Linked DNA regions of Homo sapiens: region 1 is linked to region 2. Evidence: fine-mapped expression QTL. A gene starts in region 2. The other region holds a variant in brackets. All regions are shown on one strand. Distances are from middle to middle. Region 1 overlaps INPP5D (inositol polyphosphate-5-phosphatase D). Region 2 holds the start of INPP5D (inositol polyphosphate-5-phosphatase D).

Region 1 (2,898 bases), 110 kb after region 2:
GATCAAAATAGATTACAATTTGATTTATTACAATCAATAGATCAAATTTTCTAGTAGCCACATTAAAAAGAAAACAAGTGAAATTAATTTCAATAATAGATTTTATTGAATTTCATACATCCAAAATACAATTATTTCAATAGATATTTAATGTAAAAGGTTATTAGATATTTTACAGTCTGTGTTTCTTACCAAGGCCACAATTCCAATGTGTATTTTACACTCACAACCTGTCTCATTTTGTACCAGCCACATTTCAGGTGTTTGATAGTCACATGTGGCCTGTGCCTGTATTGGACAGAGCAGGTTCTCACCTGCATGTGTCAGAATCACCTAGAGCAGGGGTTAACAAGCGTTTTCCATAGAAGGCCAGATGGTGAATATTCTAGGCTCTTTGGGCCACACAACTGTCACAATGCTTCAGCTCTGCCATCGTAGTCTGAAAGCAGCTACAGACAATCCAGAAGTCAATAGGCATGGCTGTGTTCCAGTAACGTGTTCTTTACGAACACTGAAATTTGAATTTCGTATTTTCATGAATGACAAAAGATGGTTTTTCTTTTGATTTGTTTCCAACCATTTACAAATGTAAAACCATTTGTAGCTGGCAGTGAGCCAGCATTTGCCCACCCCTGACACTGGAGGGCTTGTCAAACACAGATTACTGGGCCCCATCCCAGGATTTCAGATTCAGTAGGTCTGGGGTGGGGCTGAGAATCTGCCCTTCCATGAAGTTCCCAGGTGATGTGCAGCTGCTGGTCCAGGGAACTCCCTTTGGGAACCACTGACCTAGAATAGATCAGAACGTTGGCAGAAAAAGGTATGATCTCAGTGTGGGTTTTTGGTCTCCCCAGGAAACTTGAGTTCACTGGGAGGGAGATCAGCCCACCCAGGCTGGAACCTTCTGAATCTTCCCAGGGCTTCTGGCTGCCCGCTTAGCACCCTGGTCACTTTAGAGAGAGATGCCGGGGGAGGATCGCAGCAGCCACCTTCCTCTGCCCCGCCGAGAAGGCTGAGGCTGCCGCCATCTGCACTGCTCCTGCATTTTCTCATCTCCCGCTCTCTGCCCAGCGGCTCCCACCCTGCACGACCCTGTTTCGCCCATCCCTTGCCAGCTCCTCACTCACTGCCCCTCTCACCCTGCCTTCGGGTGATTTCTGGCCCCTTGGCAAGTGTGTCTGTTTGATATTTTGATTCTTCTTTCTGCTCTTCTTTTTAGGGAACAAGGGAGCCGTGGGGGTGTCGTTCATGTTCAATGGAACCTCCTTAGGGTTCGTCAACAGCCACTTGACTTCAGGAAGTGAAAAGAAACTCAGGTAATGGAACTCCTTCCCCCCAAGAGTGTGCATTTGGGCTGTCTGCCCAGACACGCCTCACACCTTTAAGCACCAGAAGGACCTGCTCAGCTCCTGCCTTTGACCTTGTGGATGTCCTGTGGCCTTTCAGGGCCCACCACAGTCTCATCAAAGGCAACTGCAGCACCATAGTGACCTCACGTGTGGAGGAATTTTGTCTGAAGGTCAGAAAAGATATTTCCTTGTGTCATTAGCCTGATGGACCGCTAACTAGCACTGTTTCTAAAGCAGAAAGCCTCCTCTGGG[G/T]CCTCCTTACAAATCCAAGCTGATCTTGCCTAGCTGGGGCCCAGGAATGAAGACAGCCATCTAGAATCTTCACTGTTCTGATTCTCTGCTGAGCAGATGCTGCTGCTCCTGGTCCCCTGCCCTCTGTACACCCAATGTGGCCTCAAATGCCCTTTGCATCCTGGCTGTGCCATATTTGCACACTAAGGAGTTCTGCTGCAGCAGGGCTGGAGGGCTAAGTCTCACTTCCCCCCACCTGCTATGCTCCTCGCCCCACACCTATGGCAGGAGTGACTTCCTGCCACAGTGGAGGGGGAACCAGTGACCCCGTGCTAGATGGCCGCTTTTTCCTTGCATTAGGCGAAACCAAAACTATATGAACATTCTCCGGTTCCTGGCCCTGGGCGACAAGAAGCTGAGTCCCTTTAACATCACTCACCGCTTCACGCACCTCTTCTGGTTTGGGGATCTTAACTACCGTGTGGATCTGCCTACCTGGGTAAGGGCTGCCCGCCTGGGGCTGGGGCTGGGGCTGTATGAGATGGAGGCTCCCTTGAGTCAGCTTGGGGCAGGTGGTCGTGGAGACATGTGAATCAAGTGGGCTGAGGCGGCTGCTCCCCTTGGGGGCTCAACGCTGTTTCCATTACTGAGCCTCAGCCGCTCCTCACGGTTCCCCTGTGCTCACACCCGGTTCCCATAACTGTCACAGCCACCCTGCCACCATCACTCTGCAGCCCGGGTCATCCAGCTGCCCGCCCCCAGCCCCGAAGCTTGTCAGGCCTGGATCAGCAGGGCTTCTCACCAGAGGCCCGGGCATGTTCTTGTTCCAGGAGGCAGAAACCATCATCCAGAAAATCAAGCAGCAGCAGTACGCAGACCTCCTGTCCCACGACCAGCTGCTCACAGAGAGGAGGGAGCAGAAGGTCTTCCTACACTTCGGTAAGAGCAGCAACCCCGGCTGGGAGCGGTGGCTCACACCTGTAATCCCAGCACTTTAGGAGGCCGAGGCGGGCGGATCACGAGATCAGGAGATGGAGACCATCCTGGCTAACACAGTGAAACCCCGTCTCTACTTAAAAAAATACAAAAAATTAGCCGGGTGTGGTGGCGGGTGCCTGTAGTCCCAGCTACTTGGGAGGCTGAGGCAGGAGGATGGTGTGAACCAGGGAGGCAGAGCTTGCAGTGAGCCAAGATCGCGCCACTGCACTCCAGCCTGGCCAACAAAGACAGACTCCGTCTCAAAAAAAAAAAAAAAAAAAGCAGCAGCCTCTCCTCTTGGAGCCTTTCCAGCCATCCTTTCGTCCCCTTTCCCCTGATT
Region 2 (2,898 bases):
GCTCCCAGCCTGGCCAGAGGTCCTTGACTGGGAGTGCTTTGTCTGCCCTACAGACTCGCCTGCCATGTGTGTTGCTCAGCGGGGAGGTGCTGGGGGCCCTGTTCTGGGACAACCATCAGTGTGACACATGTTGAGCCCCTGGGCACATGTGAGCTCTTTTACGAGCTACGTCCTTCAAGTTAGACAAGAAGAAACCAAGGCCGAGAGAGAGAAGAAACTTGACCAGGTTCCCACAGCTTGAATGTGGTGGCGCTGCCTGGCTGGTGCCCCTTCCTGGAGGGAGTCTGTTGTCATGTCCTGGAGGCCAAGGCCTGGATGTGGGATGGTGGGGGCACTCTTTGTGCAGCGGGTCAACACGTGCCCCTTCGGCCTTGGTGGGCCGGACCCAAGGACGGAAGGTGCCCAGGTCTGGGGGCTGAGGGATGGGTGTCCACCGCAGAGCCCTCAGAAATGACTGGTCCTGGATGGCGGTCCCTGGAGAGGCAGCTCCTCTTTGAGTGGTGGGCATATGTGGCCATGCCCAGTCTTGGAGGCGGTGCAGTCCGACCGGCCACCCCGACTGCTGAGACGCAGGACTCAGCACCCAGTGTTGTCCTTGGCCAGGCGGCCAGCCTGCCCTGTGGGGCTTTGGGGTTCTCCTCTCCGAGCTTGTTTCCCCAGCATCCTGGAGAAGCCCAGGGAAAAACCCAGCCTATGTTCCCGCTGTAAACGGCCCACATCCCCTCCAAGCTCCCTTTGTGTGTCTCCAAGCTGGACTGCAGGGATCAGAGCTGTGCTGCCCGTGCAGCACCCACCCGCCCCTGGGAATGAGGGTAATGGGGTCACAGAGCCATCACTTGGACCTTGGCGCCCTCGGCTGGTGGCAGCCAAGGTCTCCCAGCACCCAGGCCGCTGGGAGTCTCTAAAGGGGAGGGGTGGGGCTCGACTGTCCCCTCCCCCTCAAGTTTGCTCTGTCCTGGGCAGGCCGTAGTCCCAGTTGAGAAGCTGTGCCCCCTTGGGTGTTTTGGAGGTTCAGGGTGGGTGCTGAAAAGCCCTGAGGGAGAGCAGAAGGCTCGGGGGCCTGTCTAGGGCATGGCATCCCACGTGGGTGTCAGCACGGCCGCAGAAGAACCACTTCTCTGGCCCACCCATGCCTGCTAGGCCATGCTTCTTCAGAAGTGGCCACAACTCTCCTGACGTCTCCAGAGCCGGTCATTCCACCCAGGGGGACTTCAGCTGCCACTGGACACTTCAATTGTACGCTGCGACCAGTTGCCAGGAAGGAGAGGGCTGGCAAGAGAGCCGCGGCAGCCGTGGCAGGGTGTAGGGGACGGTGGACGGCCAGGGCCCCCCCCTCTCTCTCTTTCTCTCTCTCTCTCTTGCTTGGTTTCTGTAATGAGGAAGTTCTCCGCAGCTCAGTTTCCTTTCCCTCACTGAGCGCCTGAAACAGGAAGTCAGTCAGTTAAGCTGGTGGCAGCAGCCGAGGCCACCAAGAGGCAACGGGCGGCAGGTTGCAGTGGAGGGGCCTCCGCTCCCCTCGGTGGTGTGTGGGTCCTGGGGGTGCCTGCCGGCCCGGCCGAGGAGGCCCACGCCCACCATGGTCCCCTGCTGGAACCATGGCAACATCACCCGCTCCAAGGCGGAGGAGCTGCTTTCCAGGACAGGCAAGGACGGGAGCTTCCTCGTGCGTGCCAGCGAGTCCATCTCCCGGGCATACGCGCTCTGCGTGCTGTGAGTACAACCTGCTCCCTCCCCGGGCACAGATATGACAGAGGGGCTTAGAGGGGGCCCAGCTTTGAGATGGGTTGTTCTTATGTCACAGGACAGAGTGATCTGACATGCACACTTCCCCGCCACCCTGTCATGGACCTTGTCCTTGGAGTTCAGAGAGCTGGTCTCATGGCAGGTTTTGCAGCCTTGGAGCTGTCAGAACCACTCTGAGGCCTGATGTTACACCCCAGCTTCCCATGAGCTGTATGGACCTTGTGGCTTCCTTGGAGTCTGGGGACCGAGAGAAGGGAGTTTGGGCTTTTGGAGCCAGGAGGAAGCTCAGGGCTCTGTGGAGGTGGGTGTGTTAGAGATCAGCTCAAAGATGCCCAGCTCAGAAACCCTGAGAAGAGCAAAGGTGGCAAGGGGGACCCTTCCTGGAGCACCCAGGCTTCGGGCCCCTGGAGGAAGCTGTTGTTTGGCGAGCCAAGAATATGGGGTGAGTTTAATCAAGAAAGGACTTTCCATTCAGTCAGAAGCTGCTTTCAGGGGCCTGAGAGCAGAGGAAGTCACCATTACCACCAGCGAGCAGCCTCTTCTCTCTCCTGAGCACTTGGCTGTGACCGCTGCCCACCCCCCACCCCCTCAATTTGGGTCTCTGTCACCATCAACTCCTCCCACTGCCCGGTTGGGGATGTTACTGAATGTACCAGCTGTGCTAACAATGGAGGAACCAGCCACTTGCTGAAGGTTCCTTTCTAAAACCCCCTTCCTGTCCAGCGTCTGAAGGAGGCCCTTGCCCTGCAGCTCTCGGTCTAATCATAGGGGGGCCTTGCCCTGCAGCTCTTGGTCTAATCATTTTGCCGGGGCCTCAGGCAGTGCCGGAGTGTAGTCAGGGAAATGTGTGTCCACCTGAACATCTCAAGTAGCATCCCTGGGCTGGCAGAAATGTTCCCCCGAGCAGCCAGGGCCTTGTGCTTCTCCAGGCAGGAGGGGAATTGGGTGATGAACCCAGACCTGTTTTGAATACTGACTCACAGCTGGGACCTGTCGTGCTAAGCATTTGTTAGCCCATTTCATCCTCACCACAACCTAAAGTGAAGGTCCTGTTAAAAGCCCCACTTTGCAGATGAGAAATCTGAGGCCCTGGCAGGTTAAGTGAGTGACAACAGTCAAAGCCACGGCCATCTGCCCCCAGAGGCTGCAGCTGAG

The links. PIP is the estimated chance that this variant, and not a neighbour inherited with it, causes the effect.
Region 1: its variant is fine-mapped to the expression of INPP5D in whole blood (TOPMed, PIP above 0.99).

What each region holds. Positions count from the first base shown.
Region 1 is chr2:233,168,086-233,170,983 of GRCh38, forward strand. It overlaps INPP5D (inositol polyphosphate-5-phosphatase D), which reads left to right. Exons shown (of 27, transcript NM_001017915.3): 14 at 1,220-1,316; 15 at 1,941-2,079; 16 at 2,411-2,519. Among named protein-coding and RNA genes, the nearest start is that of ATG16L1, 82 kb to the right of the region's middle. The variant G/T (reference allele first, on the strand shown) is at 1,602.
Region 2 is chr2:233,058,903-233,061,800 of GRCh38, forward strand. INPP5D (inositol polyphosphate-5-phosphatase D) reads left to right here and starts at 1,440. Exons shown (of 27, transcript NM_001017915.3): 1 at 1,440-1,710. The coding sequence starts at 1,577. RefSeq lists enhancers at 1,115-1,394, 1,995-2,084 and a silencer at 1,595-1,674.